7 separate regions of the Homo sapiens genome follow, and regions 2, 3, 4, 5, 6 and 7 are each reported to be linked to region 1. Evidence: microRNA targets listed by miRTarBase, many of them from high-throughput screens and not tested one by one. Region 1 holds a microRNA gene; each other region holds the end of a gene's coding sequence.
The links. The annotated mature microRNA hsa-miR-124-3p reads UAAGGCACGCGGUGAAUGCCAA and lies in region 1 at 1,813-1,834, shown strand. An mRNA with a match to its seed (bases 2 to 7 or 8) in the 3' UTR can be bound and repressed. Matches are read on the target gene's strand: a 7mer-m8 pairs with bases 2 to 8, a 7mer-A1 pairs with bases 2 to 7 and ends in A, and an 8mer does both.

Region 2: miRTarBase lists ATG4A as a target of hsa-miR-124-3p. The part of its 3' UTR that is shown has no 7-base or 8-base seed match.
Region 3: the mRNA of PPP1R13L is a reported target of hsa-miR-124-3p. Seed matches in the 3' UTR shown: 7mer-A1 at 2,310-2,316 and 7mer-m8 at 2,028-2,034.
Region 4: miRTarBase lists FMOD as a target of hsa-miR-124-3p. Seed matches in the 3' UTR shown: 8mer at 2,190-2,197.
Region 5: miRTarBase lists TPM1 as a target of hsa-miR-124-3p. Seed matches in the 3' UTR shown: 7mer-A1 at 2,490-2,496.
Region 6: the mRNA of ERF is a reported target of hsa-miR-124-3p. Seed matches in the 3' UTR shown: 7mer-A1 at 2,448-2,454.
Region 7: the mRNA of FAM89A is a reported target of hsa-miR-124-3p. The part of its 3' UTR that is shown has no 7-base or 8-base seed match.

The regions. Positions count from the first base shown.
Region 1 is chr20:63,176,740-63,179,821 of GRCh38, forward strand. It overlaps MIR124-3 (microRNA 124-3), which reads left to right and starts at 1,761; the gene lies at 1,761-1,847. RefSeq lists an enhancer at 1,008-1,968 and a silencer at 2,256-2,545.
Region 2 is chrX:108,153,107-108,156,188 of GRCh38, forward strand. It overlaps ATG4A (autophagy related 4A cysteine peptidase), which reads left to right. Exons shown (of 13, transcript NM_052936.5): 13 at 536-1,565. The coding sequence ends at 606. It overlaps COL4A6 (collagen type IV alpha 6 chain), which reads right to left. Exons shown (of 45, transcript NM_033641.4): 45 at 2,508-3,082. Among named protein-coding and RNA genes, the nearest start is that of ATG4A, 63 kb to the left of the region's middle.
Region 3 is chr19:45,377,686-45,380,767 of GRCh38, forward strand. PPP1R13L (protein phosphatase 1 regulatory subunit 13 like) reads right to left here. Exons shown (of 13, transcript NM_006663.4): 13 at 1,953-2,543. The coding sequence ends at 2,505. Among named protein-coding and RNA genes, the nearest start is that of ERCC2, 8.7 kb to the left of the region's middle.
Region 4 is chr1:203,339,622-203,342,703 of GRCh38, forward strand. It overlaps FMOD (fibromodulin), which reads right to left. Exons shown (of 3, transcript NM_002023.5): 3 at 1,007-2,873. The coding sequence ends at 2,722. Among named protein-coding and RNA genes, the nearest start is that of FMOD, 10 kb to the right of the region's middle. RefSeq lists an enhancer at 2,770-3,082.
Region 5 is chr15:63,065,426-63,068,507 of GRCh38, reverse strand. It overlaps TPM1 (tropomyosin 1), which reads right to left. Exons shown (of 10, transcript NM_001018005.2): 10 at 2,330-2,612. The coding sequence ends at 2,609. Among named protein-coding and RNA genes, the nearest start is that of TPM1-AS, 18 kb to the right of the region's middle.
Region 6 is chr19:42,245,960-42,249,041 of GRCh38, forward strand. It overlaps ERF (ETS2 repressor factor), which reads right to left. Exons shown (of 4, transcript NM_006494.4): 4 at 1,610-3,082. The coding sequence ends at 2,506. Among named protein-coding and RNA genes, the nearest start is that of GSK3A, 4.9 kb to the left of the region's middle. RefSeq lists a silencer at 1,198-1,492.
Region 7 is chr1:231,017,226-231,020,307 of GRCh38, reverse strand. It overlaps FAM89A (family with sequence similarity 89 member A), which reads left to right. Exons shown (of 2, transcript NM_198552.3): 2 at 182-1,350. The coding sequence ends at 445. It overlaps MIR1182 (microRNA 1182), which reads left to right and starts at 384; the gene lies at 384-480.

The DNA of each region.
Region 1 (3,082 bases):
AGTCTAAACAAAGGCCAGCGGGGGAGGCTCCGGACGGTGAGGCTTGGGGAAGCCACTGATCCCTGGCCCTAGAGGGCCAGATCGGGGGCGCCCCAAGGACCCTATCGAGCTGGCAGTGACTGCAGTCGGGCCGTGGAGTGTCGCCTGTGATTCCGTGGTCCCTACGGGCAAGAGCTCCCATCCCGGTCTGAAACTGTGAGAACCGCAAGCTCCGATGGGGGCGGGGAAGGACGACCTTTAATTCCCACCCCACTGTACGGAGCCCAGCAGGGCCATCCGCAGGAGGCCGGCGGGACCCTTGCCTTTCTCAGGACTGAGAGGCTTGGAGGACCGCGGTGTGAGCTGCGCGGCAGAGTGCGTTCTGCAGGCGCCAGACAGGAGACGCGAACCCGCGGTCAGGGCCCGAGTGCGGGTGCGTGTCTGCGGGTGCCGCTGGGCTGCGTGCCGGCGAGGCGTGCGCGTGGCGAGGCGTGCGCGTGGCGGGGTGTGGCTAGAGGTGTCAATGTGCAGCTGGAGGGGCTGCGCGCGTGGGTGCAGGAGGGCCATGTGAGGGGCTGGAGTGTGTGGGAGACAGGCGTTTCCTTGGGTCTCCGTGTGGCCGCCGGGCGCAGGGCACGGTCGAGGGCGCTCGATGGCTGAGTCCGCGTGAGCCGAGGAGCGCGCGGGGCGGGACGCGGTGCGAATGCGCGGGAGGCACGAGGCGCGCAGTGCGTGTGTGCGCGTGTGCGCGGCGCGCGTGCCCCGCAGTTCTCAAGGACACCTCGGGGAGGCAGCGGCGGGGCCGGTGTCCGGGTGACGTCACCGCGCGCCCCAGTGATAATCGGCCGGTGCCGGAGCGGAGCGCGGATACGCGCGGAGGCAACGGCGACGGCGGCGGCGGCGGCGGGCGCGGGGACAGTTGCATCGGGGCCGGGCCGGGCTAGCAGGAGCTGGGCGCCTGCAGCGTGGACCCCGTGGACACTCGGCTCGCAGCCGGCCTGCGGCGCTCGGGGACTTGCCTGGCTCCCTTCTCGGGGTTCCCGCGCCCTTCTCCGCCCAGGGCAGCAGCGCGCGGGGCCCCCGGGAGCCGAAGAGCAGGCGGGAACTGGCGGCGGCGCGGGAGGCGCAGGGAGCGGAGGCGGCAGCAGCGGCTCCCGCCGGGACTGGTAATTACGCTCGGGGCCGGGCCGGGGCGAGCCGGGCAAGCGGCCTCTCTGGGTCTCCCCGTCTTTCTCTCCACGAACAGCTCGAGCGCCTTCTCGCGGGCCCGCTGCGCGCGGAGAGGACGAGCTCGCTGGGTTGTAAAAAGAGACGAGTTTTCATCTTTGAGCATCGAGATTCGTTCTTTTAACCGCATTCGGTGCGCGCTCCTGGGTCGGCACGGGCAGGGCGACGGCAGGGGAAGGCAGCTGCGGAGGAGCTCGCGCCGCCCAGTCGGAGCGGTTCTGCGCCCCTCGGAGCCCCGCGGGAGGCGGCCGGGTGCGCACGCGCTCACCACCCCCACCCCCGGAATCCGTCTTCGCGATTCCCGGGCGCCCCAGCTCCAGGAACGCCCGGAGGGACGCACTTGGGGGCCCACTCTCTGCCGCGGAAAGGGGAGAAGTGTGGGCTCCTCCGAGTCGGGGGCGGACTGGGACAGCACAGTCGGCTGAGCGCAGCGCCCCCGCCCTGCCCGCCACGCGGCGAAGACGCCTGAGCGTTCGCGCCCCTCGGGCGAGGACCCCACGCAAGCCCGAGCCGGTCCCGACCCTGGCCCCGACGCTCGCCGCCCGCCCCAGCCCTGAGGGCCCCTCTGCGTGTTCACAGCGGACCTTGATTTAATGTCTATACAATTAAGGCACGCGGTGAATGCCAAGAGAGGCGCCTCCGCCGCTCCTTTCTCATGGAAATGGCCCGCGAGCCCGTCCGGCCCAGCGCCCCTCCCGCGGGAGGAAGGCGAGCCCGGCCCCCGGCGGCCATTCGCGCCGCGGACAAATCCGGCGAACAATGCGCCCGCCCAGAGTGCGGCCCAGCTGCCGGGCCGGGGATCTGGCCGCGGGACACAAAGGGGCCCGCACGCCTCTGGCGTCGCGGGGCGGGTGGGGGCGGCCGAGGGCGGCCGAGGGGGGAGCCTGCGGCCGGGGCCAGGCTGCGGCCAGCCGGCCCCCGGCCACGTGTGTCCGCAGCGCGGAGCGCCCAGGCGCCCGCAGAGGGCGGCGGGGCCCGGGAGACAAAGGGAGGGTCCACGGGGAGCGGCGGGCGGGTGCGTGGGGCGGCGGGCTAGGGTGCGGCGCTGTCCGCGGTGCTGGCGGCGGGGCGGCCCCCGCGGGACGGGAGGGCGGCCAAGTGCGGCCCTCGCCCCCACAGCGGGCGCCCTGGACAGTTGCCACGGCAACGTGGGAGGAGGTGGGGCAGGGTCTGAGGTCACCGCTAAGTCTGCCCTTCCTCGGGCCGCTGCGCCGCGGGGCGGGGCGGAGGCGGCGCTCGCTGTGGCCCCAGAGCAGCCCCCGCAGCCCAGGACCAGGCTTGCATGGGGACGGGGGTCTGCGTCCGCGTCCAGGGTCCAAACGAGGGCGGTGGACACGCCGGACCGCATCCCGCCCCCAAAGCCGGCTCTGGGCTGTGCAGGACCAGGCACGTGAGACTCCGCAGCCCAGGGAGAAAATGACAAATCCCTCCCCCGCCGCCATCTGCAGCCGCAGTGACACCCACTCGGGTTTGCTGCAGGGGTTTTTTTTCTGTCCCCGGAAGCCAGCGCCACCTGCTGACGCCCGGCACCGCCTCTGCGCCGCCTCCCCCGCGCCCATCCCAGGCCCCGGCTGGGCTGTGATGCCCCGGTAACAGTCAGAGGACGACCCCCTCCCCAAAAGCCCCCTTCCCCTGGGGCGAGTGCCAGACCTGGCTTTGCAGCTTTGCCTCTTTCCTCTTAACCAGGTAGAGGCTGAGCCTCTCCTCCCCGGCTTCAATCCGAGGCAGGAGTCTGAGTCACCTGAAGTTCTCCCAGCTCCAGGCCCAAGGCAGGGAGCAGAAGATCAGGATAAAAGGAACCATTTGAGTTTCAGGCAGTGGCATCTCCACCCCCACCACCGCCGCTGCAGGGCCACAAAGGGAACCTGCCTCTGCG
Region 2 (3,082 bases), not on the chromosome of region 1:
CTCTCAGCTAGCAGACCCACATATAGCAGTTGTTTTATGAGAAAGAAGAATTGTGGCCCATGCTTTCTGTGGACAGTAAAATTTCTACTCAGCTGGAGTGATAAAAAAATGGCACTTCTGGTTATTTTAATCTTCTGATGAGCTGATATTTACCAATTTCAAAGAATGATAATAGAAGAAAATGAGCTCATTGCAAAAGTTCTATGCAAAATCAAGATGACTAGGATTGCTTTTTCATGGTCTGGTTCAGAATAGCAAATTGAGGCCATCGATAATTCAAAGGTATCTTGAAGGGCTTTCAGAGCCTTGGCCACATCACCGTCGTTAGGTTTATGTAACAAGTCTGGCTATTTTGAGTCTTTATAGATAATTTCTAATACTTGGCAGTAGTTCTAATTGTAAGTCTCCTCCACACAAGTCTTTCTTTAGTACAGCAATTAAAAATGCTTAGTCTTAACTACTGAGTAAAGTATTTACTGACCACTTCAACCCAAGTGTCAAGCTTTTCTTCTTTCTCATTTCCGTATTCTGATAGAATTCATTGACTCTACTGAGCAACTGGAGGAGTTTGATCTGGAGGAAGATTTTGAGATTCTGAGTGTGTAGAATCCTGGGAACTCAACTTGAAGGTCTGTCTTCCATCTGGCACCATAAAAACATGAACTTATTGCATAAAACTTTTCTAGTCAGCAAGTGCCTGATATGCCAATAGCATACAAACTCAATAGCAATCATGACTGAGCCAATCACTGTTTCTCAGAAAAACAAAACAAAACAAAACAAATGACAGTAACCCTTCCCCGGAAAGAAATAGAACAATCATGGAGCCTAGGAGCAGAGAGATGAGGAGGAGTTCATTGCTTCCCAGCTTGTGTTATATGGCTACAGCAAGTCTTCAGCTGCTGCAATGAGGAAATGGGCATCTGGAAGACAAACAGCAACTCTCAGCTTGCTTCAAGAACCAGCAGATAAGAGATGGTTAAGCTGTTCTTCACCCTTTCAGATGTGACCTCTTTTGGACTAAGCAGCAATCTGTTCTCTTGCTCAAATAATAAAGTGACTGAATCAGGGAGGAAAAGGTTCTTGTTAAATTATTTGATTGTGTAGTTGAAGTAATTATAATTTATATCAAAACGTTTGTCAAAGAAACGATGTCAAATATACACTTCTTGATCTCCCTTCTGTTTGCGGGGATCTTACTATTTGATGGGTCACTGTCCCCATTCTTACTGATACTTTTGTCAGATATCACCCTGTCCTTAAATCATGATCACTTAAATCAGGGGTCAGCAAACTTTTTCTGTAAAGGGCCAGACGGGAAATATTTTGGGCTTTGCAGGCCATGCGGCCTCTGTCACATCTACTCAACTCTGCTGTTGACATGCAAAAGCAGCAATAGACAATATGCGTGTAAATGAGTGTGGCTGTAATCCAAGAAAACTTTATTTACAAAAGCAGGTGGAGGGCTGGGTTTGGCCTGCAGGCTGTAGCTTGCCAATCAGTGACTTAAATTGTTGATTTTTGTTTGATAAATTAAAAATAAATTGTGTTTGAAGTATACCCTACTTGGTTGACAGCCATATTTAGAATTATTCATGTGGTGAATTACACATTTTATCTGTGCATCATATACAATTCCAAACCATTTGAGGCTAGCAACATAATAGGTTTTAAAGCATGTATTCATCAAATTAGCTTTGCTAACCACTTTCCTGTGAGGATGAACCTCAAGCCCCAGCAGTACCTTCTCATTTTCCTTTTCTTGCTTCCTTAACTTGCCTGCATTTCACCCCCATCCTTAATCAAGTCCCGAGGAAGGCCAGCAACTGGAAGCTAGCACCAAACCAATCTGCTTGTTTCCTTAGATTCCATGTTTTTCTTTTTCCCCCCGTATATTCCAATGGTTCAAAATTCAAAAGATGTAAAATGATATTCAGTGACTTGTCTCTCTCTCCGATAGGTCAGTTCCCTCCCTTGGAAATTCCCAATGGTATTAATTTCTTGTTTATCCTCTCAGAGGATATATTTTATACATATATAAATATATGCACACACACACACACATATACACACACACACTCATACACACACAGCTTGGATTTGATTTTAATGACTTTAACATTCTCTACTTTTGTTTTATCTACAAATGATCCTAAGGCCACAGAAGTATGAAAATGCCTTTCTTGAACTCTTTTTTTATTCAAAAAATTTATTTATTTTTATCAACCTACATCATGCTTTGATATGTTGAACTCTAGCGTGTGACAGGGATAAAAGCAGGCATAGGCTTATCTTGAAGCAGCTTATGGGTTTGTTGACTGTTTGTTAGAGGACTGTTTCAGCTCTTTGACTTTGATCATCTTCTAATTTTTTCCTGCCTCAGTGTTTTGTTACAGAGTTCGACTTGGCAGTAGCAGAAACCTCTCAGGCTCTGAGAGGGACTCATAAATTGCAGTGAGATGGACATTAGAAAAGTTTTCATAAAGGAACATCAAAAGAGTCACATGTTCAGATTTCATTTATTTTATTTGCTATGTACAAAACTGACACCATGCTTATTACTCAGGAGGTAAAGATAACAATAATTCAGATTATATTGATTATGCTTTGTCTGTATTGGCACAGTTTATATAATACTTAAGGAAACAGAATCACCTGGAAGGAACTGCCTCATGTCAACATAGCTAAGAGTGTTCTGGAAAACTGGTAATTAAAGAAAATGGCTAAAACAAATTCCCCCAAACAGAATACAATGTACTGCATAGCCAATTCAGGCTTGCTTTAGGTCTGCTAACTGCTCAAGAGAAGAGTGTGCTAGATTTTTATGAGGTTTAAAAAAACATATTAAAATAGTTTAATAGGCTACCTGTGAAAGAGCAATTGGATAACCATTTAACAAAGTCTTTAACATCCTCAGAATACAAGGAAACCAACACTGTGCAGCTTCAGTTTGCCACATTGCACACATCTGGATGGCATTTGGAATAAACAGGGACTTCTGAGAAACTGGGATGTGGGATTTACCTTTTTGTTCCTGGAGTCAAAAGCAAAACTCACACATCCTTACGCACCCACCCCTCTA
Region 3 (3,082 bases), not on the chromosome of region 1:
GCGGGAGCCTGTAGCCCCAGCTACTCGGGAGGCTGAGGCAGGAGAATGGCATGAACCCAGGAGGCGGAGCTTGCAGTGAGCCGAGATAGTGCCAATGCAGTCCGGCCTGGGCGAAACAGCGAGACTCCGTCGCAAAAAAAAAAAAATAATAATAAATAATAAATAAAAATAAAAATAAAATAAAAAAATAAAAATAATAAAATAAATAAAAATTATTTTGAGACAAAGTCTATTCTGTGGCAGAGGCTGGAATGCAGTGGCGTGATCACAGCTTACTGCAGCTTCTACCTCCTGAGCTCAAGCGATCCTTCCACCTTGGCTTCCTGAGTAGCTGGGACCTCAGGTGTACATTACCACGCTCAGCTAATTATTTATTTATTTATTATATTTTTGTGACGGAGTTTCGCTCTTGTTGCCCGGGCTGGAGTGCAATGGTGCTATCTCAGCTCACTGCAACCTCTGCCTCCTGGATTCCAGTGATTCTCCTGTCTCAGCTTCCTGAGTAGCTGGGATTACAGGTACATGCCATCACGCCCAGCTAATTTTTGTATTTTTAGTAGAGACGGGGTTTCATCATATTGGTCAGGCTGGTCTCGAACTCCTGACCTCAGGTGATCCACCTGCCTTGGCCTCCCAAAGTGCTGGGATTACAGGCGTGAGGCACCACGCCCGGCAATTTTTTTTTTCTTTTTTTTTTTTCAGACAGAGTCTTGCTCTGTCACCCAGGCTGGAGTGCAGTAGCGTGATCTCGGTTTACTGCAACCTCCATCTCCCGGGTTCAAGCGATTCTCCTTTCTCAGCCTCCCAAGTAGCTGGGACTACAGGTGCACACCACCACGGCGGGCTAATTTTTGTATTTTTAGTAGACACCAGGTTTCACCATATTGGTCAGACTGGTCTCAAACTCCTGACCTCAGGTGATCCATCTGCCTCAGCCTCCCAAATTGCTGGGATTACAAGCGTGAGCCACACACCTGGCTTAATTTTTTTATTTTTGATCGACACAGGGTCTCCCTATGTTGTCCAAGCTGGCAGAGATTTTTGTTTGTTTGTTTGAGAGGGAATTTTGCTCTTGTAGCCCAGGCTGGAGTACAATGGTGCAATCTTGGCTCACCACAACTTCCGCCTCCCGGGTTTAACAGATTCTCCTGCCTCAGCCTCCCAAGTAGCTGGAACTACAGGCACCTACCACCACACCAGGCTAATTTTTGTGCTTTTTAGTAGAGATGAGGTTTCACCATGTTGGCCAGGCTGGTCTTAAACTCCTGGCCTCCAGTGATCCACCCGCCTTGACCTCCCAAAGTGCTGAAATTACAGGCGTGAGCCACCGCGCCTGGCCTCTCAACCTACAATTTCAACACCCAAGGAAACAGCCCACCATGAGTGAGAACCAGCAGACACAACAAACTATAGGATTAGCTGCCTCCAAACTTCAGGTGATAGAATTATCAGGCATGTACTTGAAACTAAAGGACACAAAAGAAGAATCCGAAATATAAAATAAAGGATTGGACTTGTGTGAAAAGAATCCCTTAGAAAGGGCTACTTTCAGGCTGGCCATGGTGGCTAATGGCCTGTAATCCCAGCACTTTGGAAGGCCGAGGTGTGTGGATCACCTGAGGTCAAGAGTTCAAGACCAGCCTGGCCAACATGGTGAAACCCCGTCTCTACTGAAAATACAAAAATTAGCCAGGTGGGGTGGCAGATGCCTGTAATCCCAGCTACTCGGGAGGCTGAGGCAGGAGAATCGCTTGAACTCAGGAGGCAGAGGTTGCAGTGAGCTGAGATTGCGCTATCGTGCCCCAGCCTGGGCACTAGAGTGAGATCAAAAAAAAAAAAAAAAAAAGAAGAAGAAGAAGAAAGGGCTACTTTCAGACTGCCTTGCCAAAAATCATAACCACAATGATGAGCATGTATTGAGTCAAAACAGAATCAAAAGAGAAGAAAGTCAATTTCTGTGCAAACTACTTTTATTTATAAGGAAAGTTTCTCTATTTTGTTTATAAACATTAAACCAGTGCTGTGTGAAGGCACTTAATTGGGGAGAGGTGGGGCAGGGATCCTGGTAGAGACCAATGTTTCCCACCCAGACCCCAAGACTGCTGGGAGAGATGGTGTCAGCAGTGACTCCCAGGAATATCCAGTGGTGTGGTGGCCCATCCCAGGCCCGGCTGGGCAGGTGGCTGGCTTGCTGGGGGATGTGATGATGGTGGTAGGCATGGGAGGCACTTTGGACGGGATCTGATTTGGCAAAAGGAAGTGGTTTCCTGTCCCCAGTGATTTCCAGCCCTTCCCAGACCTCCCAAGGCTAAGGCAGATTACTAAATTTAAGGCTGGGGCCCTCCTTCTTCCCTGGACTTCCAGGAGAACAGAGAACCGGTGGCAAGGACCACCACCAGCAGGGTGAGGGGTGCAGATAAAGGCAGCAAAAAACAGAGGGAGAGGTCTGGAGGGAAGGCAGGAATGCTTGTTTCTGTCAGCCTCAGAAACCTCCTTCTATCCTGCTAGACTTTACTCCTTTGAGGCTTCACCCTGGGGAACAGCTGGGGAGAGACAGGATCTTCAGACATCAGGAGCTCCCACCTCCTCATCCCACATGCAAATCCGCTGCCTGTCTCTATCCTCCCACCCCTTCCTAAGGGGACCTCTCAGCACCTCCCAAACTGCTCCAGAATCCAAGTTCTGTGTCACCTCCAAGAACCAGATGGAACCTTCCAATCAGAGCCTCCACTGATGAAATGGAATATTTCCAGTGTCTCCTAACTGCCATAAGGAGAAGCCCACCTCTCTCTAACACCTTGGTTGTCTTTTTGGGTCCCACCTCCATATTTAAAAAATCTCCTCTCTCAGGGCCGGGAGCAGTGGGTCACACCTATAATCCCAGCAGTTTGGGAGGCCGAGGTGGGTGGATGACCTGAGCTCAGGAGTTCAAGACAAGCCTGGTCAACATGACGAGACCCTGTCTCTACTAAAAACACAAAAAATTAGCTGGGCGTGGTGGTGCATGCCCGTAATCCCAGCTACTTGGGAGGCTGAGGCAGGAGAATCACTTGAATCCGGGAGGTGGAGGCTGCAGTGAGCC
Region 4 (3,082 bases), not on the chromosome of region 1:
AAGGGAAGCCTTGCAGCAGGGCTGGCTCCCATTCCTCTCCCTGCTCTGTCTTGGTTGGGATGCTCATGGGAGCTGCAAAGAAGCAAAAACGGAGAGGCAGAGGATTCCTCCTTATAGTTAGATAATTCCTGCCCTATGTGCCACATCTCTGTCTCCTCCACATGGCATCTTCCTGTACTGGAGATCCAAGGCAGAGGGGCCTTATCTGCTGTCCTTGAGGAGAGGACTGTGATTAGAGCTATGATTTCTTTCTGGTAGTTTCACACACTAGCATTCCTGCCTAACTCTCACGTCAGAGAAGTATAGTCAAATTAGTTTACTTTGGCTTAAGATGGAGTTGTAACATTTGCAACATGCTTGGTACAGAATTTAGTGCCCAATAACTATCAGTTGTTATTTCCCTATCAGAAAATAGTGGATTGTTCTGAAGGCACAAGCCTAGTCTGCCCTCCTAACTTATGCGACATTTGCTAAGCACCTATCACAACATCTGGCACTCAAAGGCTTTCACGATATGAACACAGGATGAATGAGAAAACAAATGGGGGGTAAAGGTTTGTTTTCCTCTTCCAGGGCCAACGGGCTTTGGCAGGCTTGGCTGCCCTCAGATCTGCACAGTTGCCACTAGAGGGCAGAAGCAGTTAAGACAACAATACCCAGGACTAGCCAGATCCCGAATTACCGGCTTTGCAAGAGAGGATGGTGGAAAGGGTTGAAAAAAAAACCCCAGTTATTCTATATCTCTTGGGGACCATATGGAAGGGAATGTGTAGAGAGGATTGAAGTTAGACTTAAAGAAGAACTTCCAGAACACAGTTTGCTAACTACAGCTTTTATACAAGTGACTTTTTTTTTTCATTTTTTTTTCCTCTTAGCTTCATCTGCCCGAACAGAATAGATGAGAAAGAGGGCTCATCAGTCCAAGGCCTGTGTGACCTGCGACCTCACCAGGTCCTCCTAAAGTAACCCTCCTGCAGTCTGCTTTAAATGACTCCACTCTTGTAGATGCAATCATAAAATAACTTTATTGGTCAGGTTAGCCACCACTCATGCTTTTCCTGTAATAAGGATCCTTTATAAAGGCATGATGGTGTTCACATGCAGATGCTTTCTGAAGAGCCCTGGGGCAGGGGGCAGCCTTGCCCCTCACATCGGAGCTCCTTTGTTGAAATGAGCTGGTTTGGCTTTTGTGGATTCCAGGTCTGGAGCCAAGAACGTAGTCCAAAGATCCCCTCTTCCCTTCTCAGGGAAGGTGCTTCAAAGCATACACAGTATCAGGGATGTGATGGCATCTGGGCAGAGCCTATACTTGGGCTAACTCTCCTCCAACAGTCCTTGCCCCTGACTGCCCAGATGGCTTTGTCCCAACCTTGCCCAAAGGGCAGGTGGGTTAAGCCCCAGGCAACATTACCTTTTGAAATGGGAAGAATTAAGTGCTCCCCAGCCAAACTATAAAGCAAAAGCCACCTTCACTAATGAGGATATAGCTCAGAGATGTGAAAGCAGAGGGTTGTATGCCCAGCACAGGCAAGATTTGGCTGCCTGGCCTGGGCTTCACGGACCCCAGCCAGAGCTGGTACTTTTTAACTATGGCCTTAGGACAAACCAGGTGAAACAGATTAACCACATCCTCCTTCTTTGGGCTAGCAAGTCCAGGGCTGCCTGGAGTCTGTCTCTACCATCAGGATATAGAATCTTCCTGCTTGGATAAAAGGAGAGGACAAACTGTGTTTCTCATACTTTAAAAACCATGTGGCCGCTACCTTTGTGGATAAAAACCCAGGTAGGATGCTGTTTGGAATGCAGAAAGTGCTGGGCAAGAATGGAACTACTGGGGCTGCTTTCTCAACTCAGCCAATTTGAGGTGTGTTTGGCCCATTGCAGATGCTGATGGTAAGCAAAGTCTGGCCTTTCCTCTTCTGAAGTCTTATCCACCTTCAAAGAGCTACCCAGCTGCCAAAATATAGCCCTATACATTGATCTAAGCCTGAGGTTGGCTGTCTCCTCCCACATCAGGTCATGAATATTATCATCATGCTGGTGACCTCCAATCTGGTGGCTTTCCAGGGGTGAGGTTAGGGAGGTATAGAAGTGACTCCTGGTGTCCTTTCACCCTCAGACACAGTGTGGGTTGTCTCCACAGGTTGCTGGGCAGATGCTCACATGCCTTGGGGTCTCCTGACTCTGCTTAAGGCACAGAAGAGGCATCTGTGGAGGAAAGTGGAGTGGGTGAAGTGGATTTCAGAAGAGGCAGCTGGGCAAGAGGTATATTTTGAGAAGCAACAAATGGGAGCCCAGAGTAACTGCACGACCAGCCCAGCACAGAGGGAGAGCTGTCAAGTGCTGCTCACAGACAGCCAGGGATTGTTAGAAAAGTATGGTTATATACTATTGCCCATGCCACTTTTGAAGTTCCATGACCTCAGATCATTGGGAAGAACTTAAGAGCCGTGAGATTTATGGGGTTGGAACATCCAGGGATCCTTCCATCTACCACCACTTCTGTCCCTGGAAAAGAGTGAGCTTCTGCCTATGTCCTCAGCAGAAGGCTGCCTGTCCCTGATCGCCCCCCCTAACCCCACCTACAGGAAAGAAGACTACAGAGGGTGCCCGTGGACTTCTGTCACATGGTCCATCCTGGACCTTCCAGCAAAAGCCAAACCAAACCATCAAGCCAAATGCCACGGGGGCTCTCCGCCCAGTACCCGGTGCCAGGGCTGCTCAGATCTCGATGAGGCTGGCAAGGCGCAGGCAGAGGGGCGCGTCGGCAGGCATGGCGCTGCGCTTGATCTCGTTCCCGTCCAGGCGCAGCACCTGCAGCTTGGAGAAGTTCACGACGTCCACCACGGTGCAGAAGCTGCTGATGGAGAACTCTGTGGGGACAAGAGGAGCACGGGTCAGGGAGAGAAGCCCAGATTACGAACCTGAAGCCACAGTGAGATTAGCCTTTGTGAAGCAGCTTAGATAAAGGGGTGGAAGTTGGGGATGGAGGGCAGATGTTTTCCAGGATTGGAGTCATACTTACTGGCGCCACTAGGGGCAGAACTAGGGACAGAGTGAGGACTGTGCCTGCGTCTGCAGC
Region 5 (3,082 bases), not on the chromosome of region 1:
AGCAGTTCTCACATTAACATTCTCTTATAAATGGTAGGACATGGGAGGATGCTATGCTCGTTATGTTTTCTCGCTTGGAATATCTGCTGCTCTGTCCTCTTTGCTCATCCACATTTTTTGAATATGCCAAACCCCAGTCAAACGTCCGCTACCTCCTCCAGGGAGCTCCCAGTCAGAATGGTTCTCTCTTCCTTGTTGCCTCCAAATACACATGCCTATTAGTTCGGACTCGCTTCACTCCTCTATCTCCCCATCAGATGCCCAGCTTATTGAGGACAAAGAGCCTTTCCAGCCCATCTCTTTACCACACCCCCACTGCTTCCCACGGTGTTTTGCACGTGACATATGCTTGGGGGTTCCAAGACATATATCCCATTACTACATTCACACTATGGACATAGGAAGTGTCGCCATGGGTGGGGAGCTTGTCTCAGTTTGCTGAGCCCAAATGTTTGGCCAGGCTAGAATGGAAGAACTTTGGAGAAAATCTGGAGAATCCAGAGGGTCAGTATGAATTCAGCAGGAAGGACAGTGGTCCCTCCGACAGCCTCCTCTGGATCTGCTCTGCTTCAGCTGCTGTGGAGCTGGTGTGCATGGGTGGCCCAAAGGCAGGGACAAGACATGCTCATATCCTTGGAAGTGTTTTCCCTTCCGGTTCTATGGAGACTCCCAGCTGTCTGAAACTTCAAGTGCCCAAACTCAGTGATGCTTTTGGTTTGGCCCACCAGAGCAGCTGTAGCTATGGCCTGGCCCTTTGAACCAGAAGCCTGGTTCAAATCAACAGTTGAACAAGAAATCAACAATTTCTTGATAAACTTGAGTTTATCAAGTTTTCCTCTTGCACATGCATACCTTGGGCTACTCCTGACCTGCCCTCCCAGTCCATTAGTGCCCCACTTCCCCTTGTAGAGTGTACTTATAGAAAGTGCGAAAGTCTCTGGAAGGATTTCCAAAACACAGATGTGCCTCCAGAATTACATGAACATCTGCTCAGCAGAACTTTCAGACTTGGCATTTTGTCTACATCAGGAAGCAGGATTTACTCAGAGAAGGGTACACTTCTCTTATTCTGAATTTAAAAAAGAATGAGGAAGGAATCATAGTCAGAAGCAGGCCCAAGGAGCCTTAAGAAAAGAAAAGCATGAAATCATGGAAGTCTTTATAAACTCAAGGGAGAGACATTGTCCAGATTCTAAAATTCCACCATACTATGACTAAAATACTTTAATTCACAGCTTTCTTTAAAAAAAAGTATTTCCTCTATGCTTTGAAGTCTCTGTAGAGTGAGAATGACACTATCTTCTGAGTTTGTCCAAATTTATTTGAGTATGGTGGTATATCAGCCCTCTCGGGCTAAAAAAACTATATACAAAACATGCAGATCATCCATGTTAAAAAAAAAACAGGAGAAATATATAGCTAGATTGTTGAGGAAGGAGAAATGTTGGGAATTATAACACTAAAGTCCATATTAGTTAAAGTTCTATTTTTTGCAATGTATTTTTTTAAAAAAATCACTTAATTGCTGTTTGTGAAATAAAACAGAAGCCCAAATGAAATACAATTGTCTTCTGAACAATTTCCACCAACTATCTTTTTGGGAAAAAAAAAAAGAAACTTTCATTGCTATATTTTAAAAATGTCCACAAATGAAAACACAGCCATTGAACACAAAGATTATGTACAATCCCTCCCAAAGAGTATGTGCTAAAAAGCACAAAACAAATCACGACTAAACAGAGTAATCATATTTAGAAAACCTAAGATGTCATTTTCATGATCAAAATAAAGGTGGCTGAGTCATGAATATACTTCAAAAAAGCTTGAACTTTTCTTTGTGCTATAAAAGGATGATCGACAATAACCAAAACTTACATTGTTTGAATCCAAGTTCTTTTTCACCCTTCTCAATGTATAACTTCCTAGTAATATGGGACAGCTACAGAACCATTCATCATGAGCCTTTCATTAGTTAGCCAGGTCCTCCCAAGTAAGGCCACCGAAATAATCAACACAGAGGGGTCACTACATCCCGAGCTAAACCTCCAGCAAAGGAAGACACTGATCAAGCCAGACCTTTCAACTCTCAACAAGCAATGTCCCCTGTGTGACCCAGACTGCAAAGCAGAGCCATCACAATTCCCCCAAAACCCCCCCAGATGTCCAGACCTCATTCTAACCTTTGAAAATCAGAACTCTGAGAGGGAATGCAGGCCTGGGTATTTTTTTGAAGTTCAACAAGGAACTACTGCTTTAGAAACTCCTGATATAATTCTGTATAGTGTTCAGTATTTAAAAAGAAAAAGCAGCAGCCAAACACTAACCCTCATATGTGTGAAGCAGCTTTGTAGTTTTATTCAATGTTGAAACTAAAATGTCAATAAATAAGAAGTAAAAAGAATAGCAAACAGAAATAGCTTACACAGTGTTTATTTGACACTGAAACGAAGAGCTTCTGTACAATAGAAAGCACAGTGTGTGCCTGGCTCTAAGGCAGGATGCTAAGAGAGAGAACCAGGGTCAGCTGGAGAATAGACAAATGCAGAGCTCAGAGAGGTGGGACATCCAGCTCGACGAGGGAGTCTTGGGAGAAGTGAAGCAAAGAAACTTATCTGCGTGAAGATAAAAAGGTGGGAGGAAAAAAAAAGTGGCACAATGAGAAAAAAAAAAAAAAGAAAGGAAACCAAACCAATAGATGAGAGCACTTGAAACACAGACAAGAAGCAGTCATGCAAACCCCACTGCCAGCCACACCCTTGGAAGGACATCCATCTTCCCACCTGAGGCCGTCACAGGCCGCCTTTCGGCAAGGGTCCATTTTAAGAAGACCCATGAACAGAATTTAAAAACAAAAAAAATTTTAAGCTACACTCGTCTTTCAGAATATTTAATCATACTTGATGCAAAAAGTTTTTCCCAAAGAATCACCACATTTTAGCACTGAAAAAGACCTTAGAGACAGATGATCTGCTCCACCCCCTCATTTACAAATGAGGGATGAGAAGACACATTTTCTCTGGTTTCCATGGCAACAGTCATGTCTCTAGAGGCTTTTTTGTTGACTGTGGGGATTCTATAACCT
Region 6 (3,082 bases), not on the chromosome of region 1:
TTTAGGTGGGCGATTAAAGGTTAGAGTAGCCGCTGGAGTTTTCAAGGCCAAATGCCACCTGTGACATCCTACACAGCCAGAATCTGGGGCAACTTGTCTGGTAGGGCTGTGGTCTGACCTGGACAGCAGTTAGGGAGCTGAGCTGAGCACTTATGATTCCATATTAGATGTGGTTAGAGGTGCTTTGAAGGCACTGGGTTCAGGGGCTGAGGCCAGTAGTTAGGGTCCTCTCCTCCCGAGTGACAACATCCCCTTCTCCATCACCCCACCACCACCACCAACTCAGCTGCAACTATGTTGCCAGGAGACATGTCTCATCCCAGCTTCCAGAAATAGCCCAGTGGCCCCCACCCCAGGGAATGACTTACATCACCCAGGAGAGGGAGCAGTTTCCCGCAGGCCGCCTCGGGAGCCTCGGTTTCCTGCCAGTATCCTAGCCCTGGATCCTCTCTTCCCTGCCAACCGACATCATCTGGGACCACCCACCCTGGCTGGCATGAAATGAGATGCGAGTGGGTAGCAGTTGCCAGTCAACGTTTCTTCCCCCTCAGGGTTGCACAGGGTGGAGTTTCATGGCGAAGCCAGTCCAACAAGCCCTCAATTGCCACTCCATCTCTTAGCAGCTGTGTGGCCTTGGGGAAACCCCTTCCCCTTTCTGGGCCTCAGGCACCTCACCTGCATGGTGGAGACAGAACTTGTCTCTAAGGGTACTTCCAGCCTGGATTATTCCTCCTAATTCTTTCATCCCTGATTCAAGCTCTCCAATCTCAGCTTCTAGCTCTATGAGCTCATCTCAAATCCTCTGATCCTGAAAGCCTGATCTGGATCCAACTATCTTGGTGTTAGGAAGGAAAAGTCAGGAGTTGTTGAAAGAACGTGGGCTTTGAAGTCCTGGCTCAGCCACAGGGCCCTGGGCAAGTCACTTAGCAGCACTGGTTGCCCCTACCTTACTGGATACTGAAGGAGCTACAACACTGCAGCTCTTAAGTATTGGACACACAGTAGGTCAACAGCATCGATGACTAGTGAGCCAGTCCCTTGGCTGTGTGCTGGCTGGGGGTGTTCCCATACCTGGACCTGAAGATCACCAAGTTACCTTGCAAGGTCTACATTTCAAGAGACACCACAGGCTGTTCTCCAAAGGACTCCCAGCTGAACTCAGAGCAACAAGAGAGGGGTGTGGGCAGGGTGCGAGGGGCAGTGCAAAAGGGAGCTCCTGGTCTTCACTGGGGACCTGGGGTGTGGGAAGAATTCCTAGCCACAAGTGGGAAGGCATCCAGGCAATCAGAAGAGCAAGGGCAGTGGGGTTGTGGTGAAAAACAGTGGGAAGAGCTTTCAAGGACAAGGTCCCCATGGAACAGAGGAGCAGTCTGATGAAGCCGGCGCATGCCTGAGACCACTATCATCAAGCTCTGGGGCTCATGTGCCTCTGAGGTCAGGAGACGGTTTCCCAGGCCTGGATTTGGCCCATTCTGATTAGGGTTAGGCCCTCTATACTGATCTGGCCACAGACCCACTAGCAGCCAGGGTGGGGCCCCTCCTTCAGAATCAAGCAAAAGCTGTGGCCCTCAGGGGGCTGCACCGAGCACCTAGGACATTGATCACTGCATCCAAAGGTCCAAAGTTTTATTGTTTTGAATACATTCTCCAGCGGCCCCTCTACTCCCCCCACCCTCAGTCCCCAATACAGAATAAGGCTTGACCACAGCCCCCCACCCCACCCCAGAGGCCCCAGCTGGGAGGCAGAGGGGGCTTCCAGTTTGGTTTCAGGGCACCCCCTTCCCATCCCCCCACCCGCCTGCCCATGGGCCAGTCCTAGGAGCAGCTGGGGATGAAGGGGTTGGACCGGTGCTGGGGTGGGGAGTGGGAGAGGGATAGCAGGCACTTGTAGAGATTTGTGGCCCATGGGCGGCACCCCTCACCCTCCTCCGCCCCCCACCCCCCAACACATGGAATTTTTGGTTCATTATAAAATTGTCCCTCCCTCCCCTGCTGTGACCTTGTGGGGTATGAGAAACCTAGGCACTCATGGCCCCCTGGAGGGGCAGGGCAGGCAGGGCTGGGGCTGAGGAGGGCTGGGAGTGGGGCAGAGCGGGTGGGTCAGAGGGGTACAAGAGGCAGAGAACAGGGAGGGAGACAAGGCTTTACTTCCTAAGCGATTGTAATAGAAAAGTTCCTGGGTGTTAAGGCCAAAGCCTCAATTCAAATATAAATTCCCCAGAATGGAGGTGACCCCCTTAACTTCCCCCTCCCTCCCCCTACCACCACTTTGCCCAGAGCTTAGAAACCCACAGAGACAGGGAATAGCCCCTAGCCCTGGGCACCCACCCACCCCCACCATTTTTAAAAAAAAGAAATTAAAGTTTTATACAAAATGTGGGGAGGGAAAAGGGAGGAGGCAGGGAAGAGACAAGAGAGCTGCCCTCACCTCCAGGGCATAGGGGGCTTAAGGCAGCAAAAGAAGCATGGGGGGTGCGGGGCACACAGGTCCCCTGCCCACAGCCCTCAGGAGTCTCGGTGCTCCAGGGAGAGCTGGGCCGTGGCATGCTGGAGGTCAGAGCTCACCCGCCTTGGGGTGAGGGGCCCCCCAGCCTCCCCAGGCCCCTCCCCACGCACCTTCTTGTCCTCACCCTCATCCTCAAAGCCCCCAGCGGGGCCCCCACCCCCTTCGAGGCGACAGTCTTCACTCCAGCGCCGCTTAAAGCGTAGCTTGAGGGGCATGCACTGGGATGCCCCGGGTGCCTCGCCGGGCTCAGGCTTAGGGGGTGCAGGTGGGGCACGGGGCGTCTTGAACACCTCCCCGTCTTCCTCATCCTCATCACTGATGTCAGTCACCTCTACCTCCTCCGACTCGCCTTCCGAGATGGGCTCCACCTTGATCTGTGGTGGCGGGGGCGGTGGGGCTAGCGCCCCTGCCCCCTCAGCCAGCCCGCCTGCACTGCCACCGCTCTTGTCAGCACCGGCTACGGCCTTCTCCCCAGCTGCCCGCTGCCGGCGTCCGAGTGGGGGCGGCTGGAGCTTAAACTTGAATGGGGAGGAAGAAGAAGAAGAGGATGACGAGGCCGAGGAGGGGACCGGTGGG
Region 7 (3,082 bases), not on the chromosome of region 1:
GGGCATAACACAATTAAGGTGTTCTCAAAACTGGAAATCCAAAGCATCCGAGTGATGCTCTGAATCATGCGCCGTGTGGAAGGAATGTGCTGGCAGGCGCAGATCGCCGGCTGAGTGTTCCACTGAAATTAAACTCAAGTGCTGACTTCTCGTTTTTTACCTCCCCACCCCTTCCCTCAAGGTTGGTCTCCGCCAGCTGGACATGTCCTTGCTCTGCCAACTGTACAGCCTCTACGAGTCGATTCAGGAGTACAAGGGGGCATGCCAGGCAGCCTCCAGCCCAGACTGCACTTACGCTCTGGAGAACGGCTTCTTCGATGAAGAGGAGGAATATTTCCAGGAGCAGAACTCCCTGCACGACAGGAGGGACCGAGGCCCTCCTCGGGACTTGTCACTGCCTGTCTCCTCCCTCTCCAGCAGCGACTGGATTCTGGAGTCCATCTAGAGGGTCTTGGGAGGGATGTGACTGTTGGGAAGCCCTTCCTACTGGACACGCTGTCATCATTTGCTGCTTCTCTTGCAAGAAAGCACCTCCGTTGTGGACGGTCCTCGGGCACAGGGGATGAGCGCTACCAGTTTCATTTGTAGGCAGGGAGTTCTCCGCGGATGCATGGTGGCAGTCTGCTTTGATGGCAGCAGTTTCTGCTTAGGTGACCTAGAGGTCCTCAGCAGTATCCTCCACACCTATTTATTGAGGTGCACCTGCTGGGGATTCATAATGAGAATATAACAAGAGGATCTCGGTGAAAGGCCTTAGTGGGTGTTTTGTGTGAGGTGGCTTGTAGCTAGCTACTTCCTTACAGATGGTAGAGTATTCCAATCCTCTTTGTGTTAGGGTTCTTGCTTCCAGTTTGGGATGTATTAAAACCACCATTTCACTGCTTCCCTTCCTCAATATGCTCTGCAGCTTTTCTTGCTGTTTAAACCTCTCGCCTCAGCTTTATTTATTTGTAAGCTGCATTACTAACTGCCCAGTGATTCGGTGAAAGCTTTTTACTGAAAAAGTTAACATTTCTAGTCATCCCAATCAACTGGCTTTTTTCAACCAAAATTTTATATCATTCTTTGTCTATCAGATACGAGAGGAAGGAAGATAATACGAAGACATGTTGAATAGTGAAAAAAAAAAAAAGAACACAAAAACTGGGGCAAGCCAATGTGATGTATCACTCACTGTAAGATGGCAAATGTTTTCATTTTTAAGATTCCGAATGTAAACTAGTGTGCTAGAAAGCAAACCACCCGCCACTCAAACCAGTAATTACCTTAAGCCTTAATATATTTATTAAAATACTTTATGAGAACATTACACTTTGTAGGTTAAAAATGAGGATAAAATGCTAAACTATCTGTGTCATGTGTTATTTTATTCTGAATTTGGAATCATCAACTTTCATGACTTGAATGCATTGAGTCCAGTCAAATAATGAAAGAAAATTAGTTTGTTTTTCTGCCACTAAATGCATTTGAAACAAGATTGACTCTGTTGAGCTTAAGGAATCGTTTTAGCAAGAGTAGATCACCATTTACAGCTGGTTCTCAGTGCTCTTTTTTTTCTTTGAGACGGAGTCTAGCTCTGCTGCCTAGGCTGGAGTGCAGTGGCACGATCTTGGCTCCCTGCAACCTCTGCCTCTCTGGGTTTAAGCAATTCTCCCACCTCAGCCTTCCGAGTAGCTGGGATTACAGGCGCCTGCCACCACGCCCAGCTGATTTTTGTATTTTTAATGGAGATGGGGTTTCACTGTGTTGTCCTAGCTGGTCTTGAACTCCTGACCTCGTGATCCACCCGCCTCGGCCTCCCAAAGTGCTGGGATTACAAGTGTGAGCCACCATGCCTGGCTGCTCTTCTGTCTTTGAATGCTGCAGACTCCTTCATCTTTCTTTTGGTGTGATAATTGCTCACTAGAGCGTCCTTCAGGTTAGGGAGAGGAAGGCACCTCAATGTCATGCATCGCCAAGTGTTAACCTGTCAAGTACACCCTGGGTCAGGAACTGGGGTGAGATACAGAGAAGGAGGAATACGCCTGCTTATTTCCTCTGTTGAAAGGAGTTAAAATGAGAGGTGGCAATTAATTGCCTTCAGCACATAACTGGTCAGTGGGGACAAGAAAATTAAAAGCAGTTAAGACCAACAGAGTTAAGTCTGGATCACTTGCAGGAAGTTCCTTTGAGGCTGTTCCATGCTTACAGTGAGTTGAACCTTTAGATCAGCTGTTCTTGAACCTGGCCACTTTAAGAATCACCTGGGGAATGTTTAGAAAAATACTGATGCCTAGGGCTGGGCGCGGTGGCCCACGCCTGTAATTCCAGCACTTTGGGAGGTCAAGGCAGGCACATCACAAGGTCAGGGGATTGAGACCATCCTGGCCAACATTGTGAAACCCCGTCTCTACTAAAAATACAAAAATTAGCCAGACATGGTGGTGCGTGCCTGTAGTTCCAGCTACTCGGGAGGCTGAGGCAGGAGAATCACTTGAACCCAGGAGGCAGAAGTTGCAGTGAGCCGAGATCGTGCCACCGCACTCTAGCCTGGTGACAGAGTGAGACTCCATCTCAAAAAAAAGAAAAAAAAGAAAAATACTGATGCCTGGGCTCCAGCACCCTGCATGCCTAGTCTGGATTTAAGTAGGAGTGAGGCGTGGGCGCCTCTATGGATCGAGGAAGCCTCCCAGGTGATTCTAATGTGTAGAAATGTTGAGATACAGTCCTTCAGCTACATAGTGTTCAAAGCGTGGTGCGTAGATCAGACATGGACAATCTCAAAGCACCCCAGCCTTGCTGAATCAGCCCCTGCCTCTTAAGATGCCTCTGATGATTCCTTTCACAAAGCTTGGGAAGCAGCTTTCTGTCGGCCCAGTGCCTAGCACTTGGAGACCACCTCTCCATAGAGGGCTACCAGGATCTCCTTCAGCACTGCGGAAGAGTGGGCCCCAGGGCATGATTAGGAGACCCCAGTCCTTTCAGAATGGGTCAACAATAGCAAGGGAGTGAAGCTCGAAGGACAAGTTCAGGCTTGGGGGAACTCATGGTTCAGAATGGCTCCCTTCCCTGGGTTGCTGCCTCTAGGCTGTTCTGGAACTGC